Linked DNA regions of Homo sapiens: region 2 is linked to region 1. Evidence: fine-mapped expression QTL. A gene starts in region 1. The other region holds a variant in brackets. All regions are shown on one strand. Distances are from middle to middle.

The links.
Region 2: its variant is fine-mapped to the expression of SHTN1 in whole blood (INTERVAL, PIP above 0.99).

What each region holds. Positions count from the first base shown.
Region 1 is chr10:116,999,874-117,011,484 of GRCh38, reverse strand. SHTN1 (shootin 1) reads left to right here and starts at 6,298. Exons shown (of 17, transcript NM_001127211.3): 1 at 6,298-6,463. The coding sequence starts at 6,406. RefSeq lists silencers at 6,122-6,201, 6,432-6,541, 6,413-6,707 and an enhancer at 6,522-7,215.
Region 2 is chr10:116,949,899-116,961,509 of GRCh38, reverse strand. SHTN1 (shootin 1) reads left to right here. Exons shown (of 17, transcript NM_001127211.3): 4 at 1,280-1,374; 5 at 7,300-7,468; 6 at 9,504-9,601. Among named protein-coding and RNA genes, the nearest start is that of SHTN1, 49 kb to the left of the region's middle. The variant G/A (reference allele first, on the strand shown) is at 5,655.

The DNA of each region.
Region 1 (11,611 bases):
TAGAGATGGTACTGGCATAAGGACAGACATATTGACTAATAGAATAAAATAGAGAGCCCCAAAATAAATCCTCATGTATATCACCAGTTGATTTTCAACAAGGGTACCAAGACCACTCAATGGGGAAAGGACAGCCATTTAACAAGTGGTATTGGGAAAAGTAGATATCCACATGCAAAAGACTGAAGTTGGTATGAAGGTAGAAAAGGCCTAACAAAAATTAACTAAAAATGGACCAAAGACCTAAACTTAAGAGCTAAATTCAGCTAAAACTACTGAATTCATCTATTAGCTCTAGTAGCTTTTTCACAGATTATTTGGGATTTTCTCTATATAGCTATATGTCATATGTGAATAGAGATAGCTTTACGTCCTCCTTTCCAACTTGGATGCCTTTTCTTTCTTTTTCTTGTCTAATTGAACTTGCAGCACACTGTTGAATAGCAGTGATGAAAGCACATATTCTTGTCTCGTTCCTAATTTCAGGGGGAAAGCTTTCAGTCTTTCACCATTGACCATGATTATAGCTGTGGCTTCTTTACAGATGCCCTTTATCATGGTGAGGATGTTCCATCTATTACTGGTTTGCTAAGAGTTTTTATGGTGAAACGATGCTGACTTTTGTCAAATGCCTTTTCTGTCTCAATTGAGATGATCACCTGGTTTTTTTCCTATTAATGTGACATATTACATTGATTGATTTTCTTATGTTGAACCACTTTTGCATTCCTGGAATAAGTACTACCTGGTCGTGGTGTATAATCCTTTTAATGTGTTGTTGGATTTGGTTTGTTAGTATTTTGTTGAGGATTTTTGCAACCATATTCATAAGAGAAATTGGTGTGTACATTTCTTTTCTTTGTGATATCCTTATCTGGCTTTGGTATCACAGAAATGCTGGCCTCATAGAATGAGTTAGGAAGTGTTCTCTCCTTTTTTGTGTTTTAGAAAAGTTTGAGAAAGACTGGTGTTAATTCTTTAAATGTTTGATAGAATTCACCAGGAAAGACATCTGGGCCTGAACTTATTTTCATTGAAGGGTGTCTTTCTTTTCTTTTCTTTTCTTTTTTTAATACTTTCTGAATTACTCTACTTATAATAGTTCTGCTGAAATTTTCTTTTTCAGTTAGTTTAGGTGACTTGTGTGTTTCTGGGAATTTGTCCATTTCTTCTAGGTTATTTAATTTGTTGACATATAATTGTTCTTATTATTCTCTTAGAATCCTTTTTATTTCTGAATCATTGGTATTACTGTCCCCATTTTAATATCTGATTTTCATATTTCTTTTTTTTCTTCGTTAATTTAGGGAAAGGATTGTCAATTTTGATACTTTCAAAGAAATAGCTTTTTATTAATTCTATTATTTTTCTATTGTCTTTTATTTTATCTCCACTCTAATCTTCATTATTTTATTCCTTCTGCTAACTTTAGGTTTATTTTGCTTGTCTATTTTCTCAAGGTGTACAGTTACCTTATTGATTTTGTATCTTTCTTTTATAATGTAGTAATTAGAACTATAAATTTCTCTCTGAGCACTGTCTTCACGGTATTCCATAAGTTTTTTTTTTCTTTTCCTTTTTTTTGAGACAGTCTCACTCTGTCGCCCAGGCTGGAGTGCAGTGGCGCGATCTCGGCTCATTGCAAGCTCCGCCTTCCGGGTTCATGCCATTCTCCTGCCTCAGCCTCCCAGTAGCTGGGACTACAGGCGCCCGCCACCACGCCCGGCTAATTTTTTGTATTTTTAGTAGAGACGGGGTTTCACAGTGTTAGCCAGGATGGTCTCAATCTCCTGACCTCGTGATCTGCCCGTCTCGGCCTCCCAAAGTGCTGGGATTACGGGCTTGAGCCACCGTGCCCAGCTTGTATATATGTTTATAGTAATTATATATTCTTACCGAATCAACCCTTTTGTGAATATAGACTTTTGTTTATTGTAACAGTTTTTGACTTAAAGTCTGTTTTGTCTGATATTAATATAACCACCCCAACTCTCTTTTGGTTACTAATTAAATTTTTTCCTACCATTTTGCTTTAAATCTATTGTTGTCTTTGGATCTAAAATAAATATTTTGTAGACATCATATAGTTAGATCATACTTTTTTTTGCATCCTGCCAGTGTTTGCCTTTTGGAGAGTTTAAGCCATCTTCATTTAAAGTTACAGTTAATAAGAAATGACTTATTTCTGCAATTTTGCTATGTATTATCTATATGTCTTATAGCTCTTTTGCTCTTCATTTGCTTCATTATTGCCTTATTTTATACTTAGTTTTTAAAAAAATGTGTATGTTTTTGGTAATCATTTTGACTTCTTTCTCCTTTCCTTTTGTGCATATTTGGTTGATATTTTCTTTTCTTTTCTTTTTTTTGAGACAGAATTTTGCTCTTGTTGCCCAGGCTGGAGTGCAATGGCACGATCTCGGCTCATTGCAACCTCCTCCTCCTGAGTTCAAGTGATTCTCCTGCCTCAGCCTCCTGAGTAGCTGGGATTACAGGCATGTGCCACCACGCCCAGCTTATTTTTTATATTTTTAATAGAGATTGGGTTTCTTCATATTGGTCAGGCTGGTCTCAAACTCCTGACCTCCGGTGATCCACCCGCCCTGGCCTCCCAGAGTACTGGGATTACAGGCGTGAGCCACAGCGCCCGGCCAATTCTATAGTTTTGAGTATATTCAGAGAATTGTACAACCATTACCACAATTAATTTTAGAAAATTTGTATTACCCCAACAATTAACCACACACCTATCAGCAGCCATTCCCTGTTTTCTCCCAGACCTCCCCTACTTTCACCCCACCTCAGTAGATACTCACCAATCAACTTTCTCCCTCTATGGATTTGCCTGTTGTGATCATTTTATACAAGTGCAATCATACAATATCTGGTCTTTTCTGATCAAGTTTTCACTGAGTATAATGTTTTCAAATTTCATCTGTGTTGTACCATATATCAGTACTTTATTTTTATTACCAAATAATATTCCAATATTGCCATTTTCATATGATAATTAACATTACATTAAATAGCTCTGTACATAAGCCTTTTAGGATAGATTCCCTGATATAGAATTAGTGGATCAAAGACAGTGAACCTTCTTCTCCTCATTGTATTTCAATCTTATTTATCTGTATACCTCAAAAGATGACATATGTGATTTTACTTTAATTACCTGAAAAATTAAATAAAGATTAAAGAGAAACTCCTTCTTGACCACTGCACTTTCACACTCCAACCCCCACACCTTGGTCCTGTTCCCCTACTTTCTATCCCTAGAGACAGCCATTATCCTGAGTTTGGCACATATTCTTCCAATTCATTTTTTAAAAGTCTGTCCTTTATCTCTATGTATATATTTGTATATATATATGTAAACACACACATTTTTAAGGGTTTTAAATGACCTGTTATTTGGAGGTCAATAGTAACTCCAACGTGATGCCTGCAACATAAATCACTATGTATATTATTATTATTGAGATGGAGTCTCGCTCTGTCACCCAGGCTGGAGTGCAGTGGCATGATCTCGGCTCACTGCAACCTTCGCCTCTCGGGTTCAAGTGATTCTCCTGCCTCAGCCTCCCGAGTAGCTGGGACTACAGGTGCCCGCCACCACACCCAGCTTTTTTTATTTTTAGTAGAGACAGGGTTTCACCGTGTTAGCCAGGATGGTCTCAATCTCCTGACCTCGTGATCTGCCCGCCTCGGCCTCCCATAGCCATCACTCTGTATATTATTAAACGGAACAAAAACTAATTTATCACTTCTATCCTTTCCATCAATATTCATATCATATAAATAAACAATAGTGTAATGGGAGAACTGAATCCCAATAAGGACTCTAATAGCCCTCCTAATAATTCATACCATGTCCTCAAGTGAATGCCATATTGTATTTCAGGAGTTTTTTTTTTTTTTTTTTTTTTTTTTGAGATGGAGTCTCACTCTGTCACCCAGGCTGCAGTGCAGTGGCAGAATCTCAGCTCAGGAGCCTTTTCTAATTTTAAGGAGGATAAATGGGATTAATTGCAAGAGGCCGCAGATTTAGTATGGAACCAAAAGTTTGATTATAGATTTGATAATTAACTCATTCTTAAACTCCAGAAATACTATCTAACTACTGTATAATTGGAGTAGACAAATCAGCCATTAAAAAAAAATGGAACTTTGTGAACTAAGCCAAATATTTAATGGGCACTCTGCTTGTATTTGGTAGAGTGAGAGAGAATGAGTCAGGATGACTCATCAGGTTTAACAGGTTTCCCAACTGCTGGACAAAAGCTAAATGTCCATTATTTTTCATTAAAATCTCCCGGATTTTTTTATTATTATCTCCTGGGGATCTTCATGGCAGCTATCTGCAACTATCTTGAATTATCTTACGCATACCTAGGGAAAGGGCTGAATAATACAATCCCATATCAAAATTATTTTTAAACTTTAAACATTTTAATACACTGTATTAAAAAATACTATGCTGCCCTTTTAGATCATTCTACCCCTAAATCACTCATGCTAAAGTACTATATTGCCATTTTAGAGAAAGAGAAAGCAGTGCTACCATTTTTTTTTTCAAAATTTTAGTTAGCATGTAGTGAGTATCAGAAAGACACTAGTTACAGGATTTACCCATATCTCAACCTCACTCTACAACTATCATGGAGAAATGAACACAAGAAATGGAGCTGGGCACTTCCATAAAACAGCAATTGAGGAATGAGCAGCACTGTGCTGTTGCTGTACCCAAACTAAGAGCTTAGAGGTAGTGAGAAAAACCAAGCTGTGCAATAAGTCTAATTCAGTTTGGACTTATCTCCCATGCTTAATGATCAGTGTAAAAGAACTGCAACCTTCAGCTTATAGTCAGCAACCACAACCCCTTTCTCACAGACCTGTAATTTTTTTTTTTTTTTTTTTTTGAGACGGAGTCTCACTCTGTCACCCAGGCTGGAGTGCAGTGGCGCGATCTCGGCTCACTGCAAGCTCCGCCTCCCGGGTTCACGCCATTCTCCTGCCTCAGCTTCCCGAGTAGGTGGGACTACAGGCGCCTGCCACCACGCCCGGCTAATTTTTTGTATTTTTAGTAGAGACGGGGTTTCACCGTGTTAGCCAGGATGGTCTCGATCTCCTGACCTCGTGATCTGCCCGCCTTGGCCTCCCAAAGTGCTGGGATTACAGGCGTGAGCCACTGTGCCCGGCCACAGACCTGTAATCTTTATTAAAAACAAAAAAACAAAAAAAAAACAAAAAAAAACTGCATTATAAATTCTGGACTTGGTGTTTTGTTAATCTTCCTCTATTAAATCCTTACAACTCTTCCTTGAGAGTAGGTATCACTATTCTTCCTATTCTTCAGATGAAGTTCAAAGATGCAGGAGACTTGACCAAAGGTTAGCTCGCAACTAGGGGTTGGGGAGAAGCACCTTTGAAACAATGCAGACCTGCCACTTCTCTCCTGGGCATGGTCTAACACAGACATGAGTTCAAATAGTTCAGAGGGCAGTGAACTGGGACAAACGCTTGGCTTAACTGCCAGCCTCTGCTGCCCGGGGGCTGCGTGACCTTCGGCATTCGGACTGCAGTGGCACCCTCTCTAAAGGGAAGGTCATCCCGCCACCAACCAGATGATCTGCAAGGGCCCTCCAGGCCCCACCATCCACGTGCAGCAGGGTCCACGTTCTGACCACCTGGCAAACCTGGTGCGATGGGGGAAAGCTAGCCAGGGCCCTCCTTCACTCACGGCATGGTCATTTAAGTAGCTGGGCGGCCTGATTCGATCCTTGTCTCCTCTTCAAGGTGCAAAATGTACCACCCTGGGCCCGCCCCTGTGGGCAGCTAGGTTTTGCAACCGCGCCCCCAGAGTCTACTGCGGGAAAACTAGGGAAGAAGCCCAGGCGTTCATGGCTCATTGCGTCCCGCTCTACCTCTGTGGTTCTTTGGGAGCGACCCCCGGGAAGCGTCCAAAGTGGAGTTCCCACACACGCTGCGAACCCACAGCCGGTTTTCTCTGAACTCGCGTCCCTGAGTCCGGGAGGTGGAGGCGGAGAAAAGGGTGCGGAGCGACCCCACGCAGGGCCGCCCCCCCTCCCACCAGCGCGTCCTGCCGCGCCGGCAGCCACAGGCTGGCATAGCGGCTGCCGACCCGCCCTCGTTCCTCCACCCCCTGAACGGGACTGCTGGGCCCGCCCCGCCCCGCCTGCAGGTGAAGCGGCCGCAGCCGCCGAGTAGGTGCGTGGGGATGATCTCACTCGCGCGCTCCGCGCCAGGAGGAGGAGGAGCGGGAGCGGATCCAACTTCCGGGTAGTGGAGCCGCAAGCCACCGGCATCTTGCTTTTTCTTCCCCCTCCTCCTGTGTGCCCCGCGCCGCTCCCTCTTTCCCTTTTATTCCCGGCCCCACCCGCCAAAATGAACAGCTCGGACGAAGAGAAGCAGCTGCAGCTCATTACCAGTCTGAAGGAGCAAGGTAGGCAGCACGCGGGCGCCAGGTGTGGGCAGCCGCGGCCCGTGGGCGGGGACGGCCCCAGGGCGCTGGGGCCAGGGCAGTTGGAAGCCGGGCGGGAGACGTGGCGGCCGCCGTGGTCACCGCAGTAGCTCCGTCACCCGCAGAGAAGCGTCCTCCGTGGCCGGCGCGCCTGGGAAAGCTCTGGACCGAGGATAACGCGGAGTGTCGGGGCTAGTCAGGCCCCGCAGCTCGAGACCCGCTGCCCGCTGGTTGCGTTTGCTGGCGATCGGGGGCTGGGGGAAGGGACGAGGATTCAGTGCGGACGAGGTTGCACAGTGCCACCTTCCTTGCCGGAGAAGCGGGTGGGGCAGGATATTTTGGCTGCTTTGGGCGGCTCAGCTAGCTTGGCCCCACCCTTACACATTTGTTGGCGCTGGGTGGCCTGTAGGGCTGTTTCACACCCTTCCCAGCTTTTCGTTTGGATTCGGTCTAGTTCCTCTTTCCTTGCCCAGCTGGGATTTTCAGGCCATAATTTTTTTTTTAATCACTTCTCAATTTTAGCAGTTTATTAGTCAGCAAGGTCAACATCCTGCCAGTGTTGAGCTTTCAGAATTAACAGGGTTGACGCTGGGCGAAGGAGAGCCAGGCCATGCGCACGCATTTCTGTACTGCTTGGTAACTGGGGATTATCCTTTAATAAAGACCTGCTTCAGTCAATCATTTTTTTCATCAGTTACCACACTTCTGAACCAAACCAGATCAACAACCAAATGCTAACCTATCACATTTAAACACTTATCATTATTACCCTGACCAAAGGGTGGTCTGCGAATGTGGGTCAAGACAGGGAGGAACCAGCCGGGTGCGGTGGCTCACGCCTGTAATCTCAGCAATTTGGGAGGCCGAGGCAGGTGGATCACCTAAGGTCAGGAGTTCGAGACCAGCCTAACCAACATGGAGAACCCCTATCTCTACTAAAAATACAAAATTAGCCGGGCGTGGTGGTGCATGCCTGTAATCCCAGCTACCCGGGAGGCTGAGGCAGGAGAATCGCCAGGAGGCGGAGGTTGCGGTGAGCCAAGATGGCGCCGTTGCACTCCAGCCTGGGCAACAAGAACGAAACTCCATCTCCAAAAAAAAATAATAATAATAAATAATAAAGAAATAAAGGGAGGAACCATACAGATTTAAAGGAAGTAAAAATGTGTAGGAACATGTACTTTTCTGAATGTCTTGCTGACAAGACCATGTAATGGAAGGATCCCTGCTCTGTGGCAAAACCTGGTATTTAGTTGCAGCTCTTTCACTTCTCTTGGCCCAGCTCACCTGCTCTGTGAACTTGGAGGAGTCTCTTTCCTTCCGTGGATCTTCTGGTCAATCAAGGCCGACCTGACTAAAGGCGAGGGTGAAACTGGAGGACTTTCTGAGGTCCTGTCCAGTACTCTTACCTGTTGTTGCGTAAAACCACAGACACCGTTGGGAAGTGCTCCCGGATTCCTCTGAAGCCACACTCTGGCAAACAAATTTCAACATTACTGTTTACTGTGTGACCCTGGGGAAATTATTTAACCTCTGAAATGGACATAACACATTCTTCTGTGATATCCAGCATCTAGAAAGTGCTGGATAAATGTTAGTCTCTTTGGCCTTCCCAGCACCTTTACCTGGCATCCTAGATTAGCCTGAGGTCATAAAGTCACAAGCATCAGTGAATTTAGTGGGTGGACAGAATGCCTTTATCTGAAGTTTCTCAAGTGTTTTAGCGAGGGACTGGATTCTACTGACTGGTATTTTATATTTAATACACCTTCGCCCAACCCAAAACATTAAAACTTGATTCATATTCTAGATTTGTGGAGCTTTCATTATAGGTAATATCTGTCAGTGGATATCAGATCTTCTTATGGTTGGTCAGTTTTCGAATAATGATAAACATAAAAAAATTTTCCCTTTCATTTCTTGTATAATCAAGGGTCGATTAACAATGTAGATAATCTGCAAATTGCTTATATTTGATTTCGGAACACATTCTCCATTCCTATGTTGGGTTTGAGGCCTGACAAAAAGGATTTCTATATTTGTGGCTCTTTCTCCTATTGCATTGTATTGGAAAATAAACAAATCCTTGGCATTGGTATTTTTAGAGGATATATTTCCTTGATTAAGTGCATATGAAAGGTAATAGAACAGTTAGATATTCAAAGTTGTGTTTCTTAAAAGGTACACTTTTGGGGATAGTGAGTCTAGTTACAAAGGTGTTGGGATTTTTTCAGCCCACAGTGTGATTTTTATACATTTCAAAACCAGGTAGTTTGCTTGTCATTGGATCACAGACTGTGGAAACAATTTACTTCAAAAGTGTTCAGTTACTGTTTGACCTGTAGAACTAATTGGGAAGCTAGGGATTTGGAAGAACAGGTAACTGGGTCTTTGAGCATTTAACAGTACATACTATGATCAATTTTGTAAGCTGATGGTTGCATGGTTTATTTTTGAAAATAGTAATTTTTACTACCTGTTACTACCTTTTTACTCACAATGTTAATATTCTGAGTGATAATTCCACTACCCCTATTTAGTGTGAGCAAGAAGAACCACTATTTATCAAATATGTTATTTTCCCTTAATAATGCTGAGTAAACATATTTATTCATTCCTTCAACAAATACTTATCAAGTACCACCATATGTCAGGTCCATGTGGTAGGCACTAGGGGTGTAAATAGTGAACTACACAGTCCTTGTCACCAAATTAATTTTCTAGAAGAGAAGACAGGTACTATTCAAGTTATCATATGAATAAATGTACAATTACTTTTTTATTCTAGGATAGATTCTTAGAAGAAATGGAATTGTTGGATTAGAGGGCACGGACATTTACTTTTGCTAGACATTGCAAAAGTGCCCTCCAAAATGATTATACCAGTTCAGATATCCTTCAGCAGTACCCATTTCCCCACACATTGGTCAACTCTGGCTAATAGCAATCTTTATTCATTTGATGGCCTGACAAGTTTTTGAATTTTTGCCAATCTAATGGGCAGAATGTTACCTTTTAAGATTTGCATTGCTCTGGTTATTAGTGATGTTTGAAATCTTTTTACATGGCCATTGGCCATTTAGGTTTCATCATATGGGTCCTTCCTTAGTGATTTTTTTTTAAACTGATACATGAGACTTGTACATATTTATAGAAGACATGGGGTATTTTGTTACATGCTTAGAATGCATAATGATCAAGTCAGGGTATTTGGGATATCCATTACCTCCAGTATTTATCATTTCAATGAGTTGAGAACATTTCAAGTCCTCTCTTCTATCTCTTTTGAAATATATAATACATTGTTGTTAACTGTAGTCACCCTACTTTGCTATCAAAATGTTAAAACTTACTCCTTGTATCTAACTATGTTTGAACCCATTAAACAATCTCTCTTCATTTTGCCCTGCCTTAGTAAGTTTTAAGTCTAAAACTTGAACCAGTTCCCCAGGAGAGTGTTCAGAAAGGAGATTCCTGTCTACTCTAAACCACAAAGCTGACAGCAGCCTTCCCTAACGTGAAGCCTTTAGTGGTGTGGTGAATAAGGTTGCTTTTGACAAAAGTTGTGAAATGTAATGACGGAGTCTGTCATAATATGAACAATCTCTAATTTATACTTACCATTCCCTAAGCTCTATGTCTTATAAATCACACCCACTTCTGAATTACTTCAAAACATTTTATGTTCCCTCCTAGTGAATGGTATAATTAGCTATATTATGTCTTTCCAGAAAGTTATATTATGTCCCTTTAAAAAAAATTAGCCAGTGTGTGATTGCTTATGTTCAAGCAGATGTTGAGGTAATGAGGTAATTCTCCTTTTGTCTTTTTTGGGGCTTTATTTTATTGGACTGATTGACATCTTTAATGCACCGAGAAATGGCAACTTTGGATACTATTTCCGAGGCATATTTCCTAGCTACTAAAGTGGATATTTCCCTTACAAAACATCATACAATTTGCTCCCCCTCCGGAATTCAGTGGGAAAATGATAGACTTAGTTCAGCATTTGTTTAAGGTGCATGATTTTCTGTATAATTCATTCAGCCCACATGCATTGAATATTCATAGCCAGGCACTGTGCTAGGCATCAGAGAGATAGAGCTGAATAAGACCTTGCCTCTGCTGGTGAGGAGTTCCTGGTCTAGAGATAGTGCTAGGCATGTAAATTCCAGGAGGAGTGTCTGATTGGCCTAGTTTGGCCAATCTCATGTATTCAAATACTTTGGCCACGGGAGGGCAGGATACTTTAATTGGCAGCCCCTGCAAAGATTGGAGGAATAGTCCAAAACAGAATGGGGTGCACTACCATGAGGATGCTGACCGGGCAGACACAGACAACACATGTCTGCTAAACTGTTCAGTGTAGTAATGCCATGTCATTTCCAAGTTGATGAAATTTTGAAGAGAGATGGCTATTTAATAATAAGGACATACATAAGAGGAAAACAACCACCACCACCCCAATAATGGGCAATTTTTGGGCTAACAGTATTTAAAATGGATTTCCTATGGTGAGGTAATTGGTTTTAAAGCAATTTTAAACCTCTTTTCACCTTTAGAGTTAGTATCGTTTTCCCCAAGATTATTGAGATGATACTTAAGTTCACATGGAAATCTAGTCAAGCTTATTCTTAGAGCAAGTTAGTAATTAAAAGATGCATCCAGTATTCCATTGGCTTCTAGGCCAGGAAATAACTGGAGCATTATTTTGACAAAACAGTCTGAAACTATTGCCTACCACAATGACCACGTCAGTCTGGGAAAACGGAAGCATTGACAATCTTGGGTGCATATGAGATCAGCCAGTAGAAAGCTGTTTGGAATTAAATGTTGCCTTGTTTTCAAGTGCAAACTTGGTTTTACATCAGTATTTTTCAAAGTGTGGTACAAGGGCCAGCTGCATCTGAATCACCAGGTACTTATCAACAATGCATTTTCCTCTGAAAGTTAGGGAGTGGTTGCTGAAGAACAACAGTTTGGCAACCCCCCATGAGATGAACATGCAGTGTGGGCTAAGGAACTATGTCTTCTAGTCAGAATTTCACTATTTCCTTAATATTATTTATTTATTTATGTATTTATTTATTTGAGACAGAGTCTCACTCTGTCACCCAGGCTGGAGTGCAA
Region 2 (11,611 bases), 50 kb after region 1:
AAATGTGCCACTTGTAATAACAGTGTTGATTCATGTTTTTCTCGGTGACTGCAACTACTAATTAGTTAAGTGGTTTTTGGTTGGCCTGCATTTGCTGCAGATTATTATTACCCCTGAAAAAATGTCAAGGTTAGAGATGTTTCTGGCCATTTAGTGCTGCTTTATGAATTTGAATATTAACATAATAAGAACTTTGGACAGACTTAGGAAGTAATACATTTTTGTATTTAATTTGGAGAGAAATTTTTTCCCCTGAGTTTAATCATAATTGCAGGTTAATTAAGCTTAAATGAAGCAAAAGTAATCTCTCTTTGTGTTATGTGAGCCCAGTGCTTTTTGCCTAACTTTGTTGGGTTTCACATTTGGGTGTCCTTTAATTTTTTTTTTTTTAAGCCAAACAAATAGCAATAAGTAATGTCTACATTTAGGGTTGAGATTCTGAGAGTTTTCATTTAACTAGAAATATGGGTGGAAGGAATTGGCATTTTTCTTTCTTGATCTTCAAAATATAACTCAAGTTCTAAATCACTTTATACCTGTAAATCTCAATTTACATGCACCAGCTGTCAAAAAATCTAAAAAATACAATTTTTCGAGCATTGGTGACATATCAAGTAAAATTTTATTTTTCTTCTAATGCTTCTGATAGCCTATGATTCAGGAAGTAATTTATTAGCATCTGCTTTATAACCATATAGTACATAAATCTTACTGCTATACTTTTCTGCCTGAGAGTTACTTATGAAATAGCAGTAACTACTTTGTAGCTAATAGAGACAAATGTTGCAGTACTTAGCCAAGTCGCCACATCACTACTCCAGTCATAAGATCAATTTAAGATTTATTTTTCTTTTATTTTTTGTTAATTTTTCTTATTAGAGCCATGTGTTATACACTGCTGAGAAAAAGAAGTCATGCTGTCACTCCTCTTTATTTATGAAATATTCTTTTGTTTAAACTAGCACATATGTCTATGGATACATATATAGTTGCATAGAAAATAGACTTGTAAAAAAATCTAAATAGCGCTCTTAAAATGTACATAATAAAATGTATGTATGTGAAATGAATGTATTTTGTTGTGTTCTTGTTTCTTTCTACATTCAAATATTAGCTCAGATTTAATCAGGGCAGCTTCTCAAAAACCTTTTTTCAGTGATAGCTAAAGGTCTGGCTAGCCAAAGAATTGAAGTATTCTTAATCATGGGACGATGCGTGGGCTCCTGGAATAGCTGACTAATCTTTGAATGCTGAGATTTTTTTTCCCCCTCATTCCTAGTTTCTCACATGGTCATAGAGGAAGTTAATTTCATGCAGAACCATCTTGAAATAGAGAAGACTTGTCGAGAAAGTGCTGAAGCTTTGGCAACAAAGGTGAGACTTCAAATGAAGGAATTTTACCTGAGCTTTTAAATTTCAACTTGCTTTTCTAAGCAGTGGCTTCTATCTGGTTTTGCTTTTCTACTTCTCTAATCGATTATCTACTCTGATGATGAGGGAAATGTTAAAAGGCCTCAGAATCCTGGAATATGATTATGTAAATATTCACCTTAATGCAAAGGTTATTCCAAATTGTAAAAGGAGCATTTGTATGTGAGTATTTCAGCATTTGTGCTTTTTGCCTGTGAAAATGTGGAAAAAATGGTCCCAGAGTAGTGTTAAAGGGGACTTTGCAAATGTCCATGCATTTGGTTAAAATGCTAACCAAGTTTAAAACTAACCTGGTGTGACATAAAAGAGCAGTGAATGTCTCATATTTGAATCAGATGAAAAAGTCACCCTGAAGCCGTGCATTTCAGGTGATTATTTATGAAAGCAAAGCGAGGGCATGCTGAAGGTGACCTCCAGTGTTCCACTGATTGCCTCTTGCTGATGAATTTACCAAGTGTGTAATTTTCTACATTCTATCTCATCAGAAGTACATTATTATTAAAGAATGTTTTTTTTATCTCTGTCTTATGTATTTTGGGTTGGGTAAAATGCATCTGAACCACTTCATCAGAAAGTGGATTACAGCAATTTTCAACCAAATTTCATTAGTAATACTGGTTGTGTTTCTTTTCCCTCCCCTCCATCACCCACCTCCGAAAATTTCTTTGGATGTGACTGAAATCCTACTCTCAATAAATACATAAATAAATGTAATTTGTATGCATTAACAGTGTGCTTCCTAGAGGTATTTGCTTAATTGTTTGCATAACAACACTACATTAGAATTCATAAGATATTTAATCAGGACCTAACTAAGAATATAAATTTGGGTATGTAACTTCTCTCCTGTTATTCATCTGAAGAATACACAGCAATACACTTTAAAAACACTTTTTAAAAAATGATAACATGGGTATTCTCACATCATTTTTACTCTGCGGCACATTCCTAGAGTTCACTAGTCCGTAATGTTGTGTGAATTCTATTTTCATTTTTGAATTTCTTTCTTTGGAATAAGTAGAGAAAAAGTACATTTGGAGCCTGCTAGCTGCTCTGAATCTTCTAGTGTCTAAGGATATACTCTCTATTTTTTCTTGTTATTAACAAGTATTCCTGTTGTCATAGCACATCCAGAGTGAGGATACTGGCTACCTTTCAGGATTGGCAGAGTTTATGGAAGGCACTGGTTTGTGGGACAGTATATACAGGTTTTGTTCCTGGTTATGTAATTTTGGGCATATGTGATTTTGGACAAGTTAATTTTGTTCTCTGGAGTGTAGTATCTCATCTTAAATGACATGATGGACTAGAGTTAGGACTGGAGTTAATAATTTATTTGCATATGGCCCCTTTTAAAAAATTACTTTATTCTGTCTCCCCTTTTATTTAATAGGTGTTTTTGGGCAAGAGAACTCACCTCTCTGAGCTACAGTTGTCTTGCTCTAAATGCCAGGATGGACCATGGTTGGCTTCATCATAATACCCCAGATCCATTGGCTCTAGATGTGTGGCCCAGGCATGTGCATGTAGAAAAGCTGCCTGGTGACTGTTATATTCATTGCTCGTTACGAACCAGTGTTACCTAATCTCTAAGCTCATTTTTACAATTAAGTCTTAATAATAGGATCCTTACCTAACACTGTTTGTTGCCTGTTCTTTAAAAACCCTTTTTTAAAATGAACATATAGTTTATTTTTGAAGATATAGTATGAACTCATGGGGCCTAGAAAAAAATTTAAAAAATGGATTAAATCAAATACTATAAATGTGCTTGTTTGTTGTGAAAGACTGCTTTGAATGCAAAATGTGGAAACTTCATTATATGTGTGACTTCATTCTGATTTAAGTATCAATTGTCATTTTTGAAAGGAGGCTTTCAAAAATGCTCATTTTTTTTCCTGAGAGCAAAGTTTCTATAAATTCTTATTTTTCTAAATTTTTGCCATCAAATTAATGACAAATGGAATGTTTAATTCTGATGATGCAGCTTGACCTCGTAATTTTCTTTTTTTTCTTTTTGAAATGGAGTCCTGCTCTGTTGTCCAGGCTGGAGTGCCGTGATGCCATCTTGGCTCACTGCAACCTCCACCTCCCAGATTCAAGCAATTCTCCTGCCTCAGTCTCCCGAGTAGCTGGGATTACAGGCATGTGCCACCACACCCAGTTAATTTCTGTGTTTTTAGTAGAGACAGTGTTTCACTGTGTTGACCAGGCTGGTCTCAAACTCCTGACCTCAGGTGACCTGCCCGCCTTAGCCTCCCAAAGTGCTGGGATTACAGGCGTGAGCCACTGCGCCCAGTTCCTCATATTTTCTTAGAAGCAAGTATGGATACTTTGCTTTGCTAAAATGTGTAGATTAAACTGATAAATGTGGACCAGTTATTTAAGTCATATGATCCAAAGCCATTAAACTTGCTTGTTTTGTACCTTTAAATAGCCACTAAACTGGACAATATAAAAACCCTATTTACATTTGAATATAATAGTAGGTTCTGTTACTGTAGGGTTATAAAAGATATATTTTTGGCTGGGCACGGTGGCTCACGCCTGTAATCCCAGCACTTTGGGAGGCTGAGGTGGGCAGATCACCTGAGGTCAGGAGATTGAGACCATCCTGGCAAACATGGTGAAACCCCGTCTCTACTAAAAATGCAAAGCTTAGCTGGGCGTGGTGGTGTGTGCCTGTAATCGCAGTTACTCGGGAGGCTGAGGCAGGAGAATCGCTTGAACCAGGGAGTCAGAGGTTGCAGTGAGCTGAAATCACGCAGCTCTACTCCAACCTGGTGACAGAGAGACTCCATCTCAAAAAAAAAAAAAAAAAAGTAAAAAGATATATTTTTGCCTTAGACATAGAGGGGTTCCAAACAACAAGTAGCATGCAATTAACCTATAGCTTGATGAATAGCTACAATGAAATTACTTAGCCAAAATTTGTGAATTCAGAATTCTCAAAAATGTTCAAATAGTATGCACATAAGACCTCATGTCTAGGCCGGGTGTGGTGGCTCACTCCTGTAATCCCAGTGCTTTGGAAGGACAAGGTGGGAGGGTCACTTGAGCTCAGGAGTTTGAGACTTTGAGGCTGTGGTGAGCTATGATCATACCACTGCACTCTAACCTGGGTGACAGAGCAAGAACCCATCTCCAAAAAAACAAAACAAAAAAAACCCTCATATATATAAATCTTACATTTCTTCTTTCAAAATGCGAAAATGGGGTTTCAGAGAAGGATTATGAAATTTTCTGATTGGCTTTTTTTTCTTGAGCTGGTGACTTTGTTAAGTAGAGTAATTGTATTGCAGACAAACTGGTGGATTTTGGTGCCTGGTTTGATAGGGGCATTAAACCCTTTTGAGGGCAGAACTGTTAGCTATGATGTTGCTAAGGTATTATTGTAGTGGTTGTCTAAGAAGTAATATATTAAGCACTAGATGACAGAAACTAGTAGTTTCTTGAGTATCCTGGAGGAAGGAGAAAATGCCTAAATGAATACTTTGAAGAAAACTAGCTGATAAATGATTTCCAAAGGATAATTAGACACAAACTAAACCTCTTCTTACTATGAATAACTAACACTGAAGTTTTACTGTGTGGCAGTTACTATATTAAATACTTTATATATAATGTCTCATTTAGTCATCATATTGTGGGATACAGACTATCTTAATTCTTAGTTTACTGATGAGAAAACTGAAACATAAGGATTAGGTTAGTTGTAGAGGCAGAGATGGAATTTTATTGCAGAGCTGGGTTGTATACTAAAGCAATGCGTTTCTTTACATCAATGATTCTTAGTGTTGATGTACATTAGAATCACCTGGGAAACTGAAAAAGGGCTATGCTGGGCTTCACTGCCAGAGATTTGGGTATGGCATAGCGCCTAAGCATTGAGGTTTTTAAAAAGCTCTCCAGAGATTCTGATGGCCAGAGTTGAGAACCATTAGTTTAAATATTAGGATACAGAACCAGAAATTAAGTCTTAAATGTCTTCACTTTTTCCTTAAATTGATGTTTTCTTCTGACATTCCTAAAAGATGGGATAGTTTGAGAATTGACAAGTGAGGGTCCTTGAGCTTCGTGTGCCATGCTGTAGCATTCATGGTTTAAAGAACCCACAACAGTTTTTATCTGAATTTTCCAACTTAAGGAAGAGGTGTTGGGAAATGATGGGCCTCATCTTTTATCTTGATCTCCTAATGTAATGTGTGCAGACAGAAGCTAGA[G/A]TTGGAGACTGGGACTGAGGATAAAGGGTTGTGTCTGATTTCCTGAATAGAGCTTGCCAGTCTTCCAGGAAGAATCCATGGAAGAGTTCATAACCATTTCTTAGAGATTCTTCCTGATTCTCCAAAGAGGTCAGACAAACCTCTCGTGCTCCAGACCATGCCACTTTAGGTTCCATATTATTGGGGTAGAAATCAGATCTCCCAGATTAAAGTGGGCTGGGCTTTCTCTATGAGAAACCCTGAGGAACCCTAATTATGATCACAAATGAAAGAGCAAAGTCAGACCAGTGCTATGCTAAATATCTTATTCTAGTGTCAGGTTTACAGTGAGGAAAGGTAGTTATCTTTCCAATGAACTATGTTCATTTGTTTCCAATATCAATTATTAAATTCAGAGCATGTCTTCCTGGTCAAGGGCTCTAGTAAAGGAAATGTATTTGCATTTCTATAACTTACATTTTATAGTAGGGAAAATAATCTACTGATTACTTTGATGTGCGCAAATTAAGGAAAACTGTTTATTTTTTAGTCTTGGGAAGAGAAAATATGAGCAAAACCATATTGTACTTCTGTGGACATTGGAACATCCTTAGTCTTTGTGTGTGCTTTGTCCTAAATTTTCTTGTACATAAACACATTAGCTAAAGAAGGTGATAATAGTTGAATAACTGAAGTTAAAAAACCAACTCATTTCCCTGTCCGGGAATAAAAAATACATTAACAAAGTAGGATTCCTTTTTTTTTTTTTTTTTTTTGCTGTGAAGTAGAACTCTTTTAATAGAGATAGTAGAAACAACATCTTGAACTAGTTTAAACAAGAAAAGAAAATGATGTGGGATCTGTTAGAAATATCAGAGACTTCCATAGAATCTCTGAGACAGGAGCAGTTTAGGAATGGACTGGAGTCTGGGGCTTGAGTCTGGTGGGAAACCCTTTCTCTGTTGCTTTTCTCTTCCTTTCTCTACACATCAGCTTCAGTTTTAGCTTTTCTAAAAACTACCTTCCTCTTTTCCTTGATCCTATAGTGGAATGTGGTTACCAGCAGCTCCTGTCCAGGCACATGGAAAGAAACTCATTGCTCTGTTCCAGCCTCCAAATTTCTAGCGAGGGGATCTGACTGGTCACACTTGGGTCATGTGTTTAATCCCTGGACTAATTCGCTGTGGCCAAAGGGATGGGGTGTGCTTGGGAGAGCATGGCACTCCCATTGAAATCATGTGGAACAATGGAAAGTGGTAATGTCCAGAAAAGAGAGATGTTAGGCAAACAGACATTTAAAAGGTGTTCTCAGCACCACAGCACGCAGAAGATTTGCTTGAAATAAAGTGCCTTTTTTAAGACTATTAATGACTATAAATCAGAATTTTATTTAATCTGTACTGGTGTTTTATCTTAGTTCCTTATATTTCTCATCAGTTACAACTAGCATTTCCACTTGCTGCTGGCTGTAATCCAGACATCAGATCTTGGTTAAAGAAATAAATTTAATATAAAACCTTATTTAATGAATCCACTAATTGTTATGTCCTGCTGTGAGTGTTGATGAATATGTAAGACAAAAATATACTTAATTTGTCTATTGTTTAAAAATCCAAGATACTCATTTGGCTGCTTTTAAAATAACTGTTTTTATATTTTGTCTTAGCTAAATAAAGAAAATAAAACGTTGAAAAGAATCAGCATGTTGTACATGGCCAAGCTGGGACCAGATGTAATAACTGAAGAGATAAACATTGATGATGAAGATTCGACTACAGACACAGACGGTGCCGCCGAGACTTGTGTCTCAGTACAGTGTCAGAAGCAAATTAAAGGTAGAACTCTTTGCTTAATTATTGAGCATATTTTTTACCCCGTTATGATAGTGCTTCTGAACCCTGACTGCACATCAGAATCATGTGGGAAGCTTTCAAAATACTGATGCCTAGGCAGGGCGTGGTGGCTCACGCCTGTAATCCTAGCACTTTGGGAGGCCAAGGCGGGTGGATCACCTGAGGTCAGGAGTTGGAGACCAACTTGGCCAACCTGGTGAAACCCGGTCTCTACTAAAAAATACAAAAATTAGCTGGGCGTGGTGGCAGGTGCCTGTAATCCCAGCTACTTGGGAGGCTGAGGCGGGAGAATCACTTGAACCCAGGAGGCAGAGGTTGCAGTGAGCCGAGATTGCGCCGTTGCACTCCAGCCTGAGCGACAGAGCGAGACTCTGTCTCAAAAAAAAAAAAAAAAAAAAAACAAAACACAAAACTGATGCCTGGGTCCTACCCTATCCAAAATTTTGCTACACCATAGGCCAATTAAATCAGAATTTTGGATGGGGTAGGACCTAGGCATCAGTATTTTGAAAGCTTCCCACATCATTTATTTATATCTCCAAATCACCATAGGGTATATAACAATTGTGCTTTATGAGTTACTTTCTTGTTTGGAATTAAGCACTTTTGAAAGTGTCTCAATGGAAGCAGCCAGTTATACTATAACCTTAAGGATATGTACTATATGTCAAGATATTTTTGTTAAATGAAAGAAACAATGAATAAAAATATATTTAGCGACACCCCTTTTTGTTGGTTAACAAGTAGTGTTGTAAGGCAAGATCATATGATACATCTACTGAATGCACATTCATTTTACTCATACACATGTTTATTTAAAGATGTAGGAAAGCAGTTCTGGCTCAGTAACTATTGGAACATTTTAATTTAGTACACAGGTCAAAAGCAATATTCATTTATTTGTTTGGTAGATAAAATTTCAACTGGAAGTATAAAGAAGAAAGGATGTTACAGACACCATCTTTACCTACTCTTCAACCCCTCAAGCTAACACAAAATAGAATTCATGTTGGTAGGGAGGGAGAGGAAGTTTAAAGGAGTTCCCTTTGCTCATTATTCTCCTTTCTGTTCGAGCTTGAACAATATGGTTTCATGTTCTTCTTTCTGGATTAGCCAGCAAATGGAGAAAGTGATTCAGAAATAAGTCTCTGAGAACTTCTCCAAGCTGAGTTTATGTAAAAAGTTTGATTTAATTTACAAATAACCACATAACATATTCTTTATTGCACTTGGAAAACAGTAAGAAATTAAAGGCAGTTAAAACCTAAGTGACAAAACAGTAGGCCAGAATATGAATTTGAGTAGTCTGTGCTAATCTATGTGTATTTTCAAACATTTGAGTGACAGAAGTAACTTTAACACCAGAAGCTTTTGCGCTTACAGTTGATAATACTCTCATTCTAGTGACACACTTTTCATTGAATCCTAATAATAAAACTATGAAATAAATTTAAAAACAAAACACCCATGACTCTAGAGAGAAAATTACTAGAATTAACCCTTCTTTCAAATAGTTATATTTTGAATCAGTTCAAATAATGTCTAAGGACTATAAATTGGCAGCAAGTCAGGATCTTTTACTTCTAATCAAAATATCCAAATTATTAACATCCCAATTGTTTATATTTTATTGTGATAACAGCCCATGGCATTATGAAATAAAAAAGAAATTAGTACTACACCTTAATTTGTTTTGCTGAAAACTTAAAAAATTTTACTTCCAAAATGCTAGATAGTTTTCTAGAATGTGGTTTTGATAGAATGCAAAGAAAACATGATCTGGTACATTTAATGTAGTGAGGTTGCCTGATATAAAATTGTTAATATCCATGGCTATTTTGGGGAGGGCCACGCAAATGAGATTCTCATTGTCCTTTGGTTCTTCATTTCTTTTTAATTGTTAAATAATCTTGACCATAAGCTGCACATGGACTGGCATTTTCAATTCTTTTGACCAGATTGATTTCTTATTTTAAAAATAAGTTTATTTATATATTTTTTTTCTTTAAAAATGCAGAACTTCGAGATCAAATTGTATCTGTTCAGGAGGAAAAGAAGATTTTAGCCATTGAGCTGGAAAATCTCAAGAGCAAACTCGTAGAAGTAATTGAAGAAGTATGTATCTCAGGCCTGAAAGGCAAGGGCTTTAGCATTTTCAAGGTGTTTGGGGATTTGCTAAGTTAAGAACTTAATATTATAAGCCAATTTCTAACATGAGAACCATGTACCAATTTTAATCTTCTCTCCTCAATTTCAGACATAAAAAAAGGTAGAGGAAATAAGATGATGAAGATTCATGTACCCACTAGCTAGCTTAATAAATAAAATTCTGAAATAGCATGGACATGTTTCCTGTTGTTCCCCCAGTTTTTGCTATGTAAGGCAAATTTGTAAGAATAGTAGCTACTATTTCAAGTCATATATTTTATTGCTGCTGGTAGAGAAAGAAGAGCATGTTTTGCTTTTCCGGTGAATGACTGGTTCAATTGGGAAGGACTGTCCCTCTGTGCATCTCCAACACAGGCATTTATGATAGGTGGTAGGATGGGTTCAAGTGGTTGTTTACAGAATCTTTCTTTTCTGGTGTTTTGTTTTGTTTGAGACAAGACCTAACTCTGTCACACTCAGGCTGGAGTGCAGTGGCATGATCACAGCTCACTGCCGCCTCAACCTCCCAGGCTCAAATGATCCTCCTGCCTCAGCCTCCCAAATAGCTGAGAGTACAGGCATGCGTCACCACGCCTGCCTGATTTTTAAAAATTTTTATAGAGATGTGGGTTCCTGTATTTCCCAGGCTTACCTTGAACTCCTGGACTTGAATGATCTTCCCACCTTGGCCTCCCAAAGTGCTGGGACCACCAATGCAAGCCGCTGCCCTGGCCTCTTTTTCCTTTTGAACTGTCTTTCAGAACAAGACCCTCACAATTGCCTTTTATTTGCACGAGGCTTCAAGGATTTGCCTTCACAGTCTTGATTCTGGATTTAATTTGTATCAGTGGTTCTTAGATTCTGTAGCCCAGCACTTCCCAACTGATGTGCCAACTGCAGCTTGATAAAGTGACTTATGAGCATGCCAACGTATTGATCCTGTCAGTGAGCAGCCTCATCCAGTTACCTCAGTTTGCACACACATATTGTCATTTTCTTGGAGGCCATGATGTAAAAAAGGTTGGAAAGCAGTGTCTGCCAACTTCCCAGCCTGAGCTCCTTTTATTATTGTGGCAAAACATTGTAACGAATGGGAAGAAGGAAGATGATATTTTGGAAAGGACCTTACCGTTGGACAATGTGTACCAGTTACTAATTTAAACCAAAACCAAAAATAAAGCCTACACTAAAAGAACCAGTTAATAGATTATCTGGAGGTGCTGATGGATTCAGAGCCACTTTCAGGACCATTATCTTTGTTTCTTAGTGTGCTCTGTTCCTCAGTTGTGATTATTTACTGATGATTCTCTCGCTTCCCACTTAGAGGTATTATTGGAAGACAATTCAACAATTATTTTTATTATGGCTATTTCAGACATCTGAGAAGGCATAATGAACAAAATAATGGGGCTGAGTTCAGTGGCTCACGCCTGTAATCCTAGCACTTTGGGAGGCCGAGGCAGGAGGATCACTTGAGCCCAGGAGTTGGAGATCAGCAAGACCTCCTAGCAAGACCTCGTCTCTCAAAAAAATTTTTAAAAATATTAGCCAGGCATGGTGGCATGTGCCTGTAGTCCCAGCTACTCAGAGGGCTGAGGTGGGAGGATTGCTTGAACCCAGGAGTTCCAGGCTGCAATGAGCTATGATCGTATTACCACCCTCCAGCCTGAGTGACAGACTGAGACCCTGTCTCTAAAAAAATTATTTTTAATGAACATCCATATACCTGCTACCCAACTTAATTCACAGAATATTAGCATGGTGATGAAAGCCCTGGTGTAACTCTTTCTGGTTGCATACTCCTTGCTCCCTGCCCAGTTTCCCTAAACAACTGTTATTCTGAACTTGGTGTTTATCATGTCAGTGCATATATTTACATGTTCACTACAATACATAGTATTTTGAGTGTTTTTAAATATTATAAACATGCCTGCTTTCTAAATTCAATATATTTGAGATTTATCTTCTACCTTGATA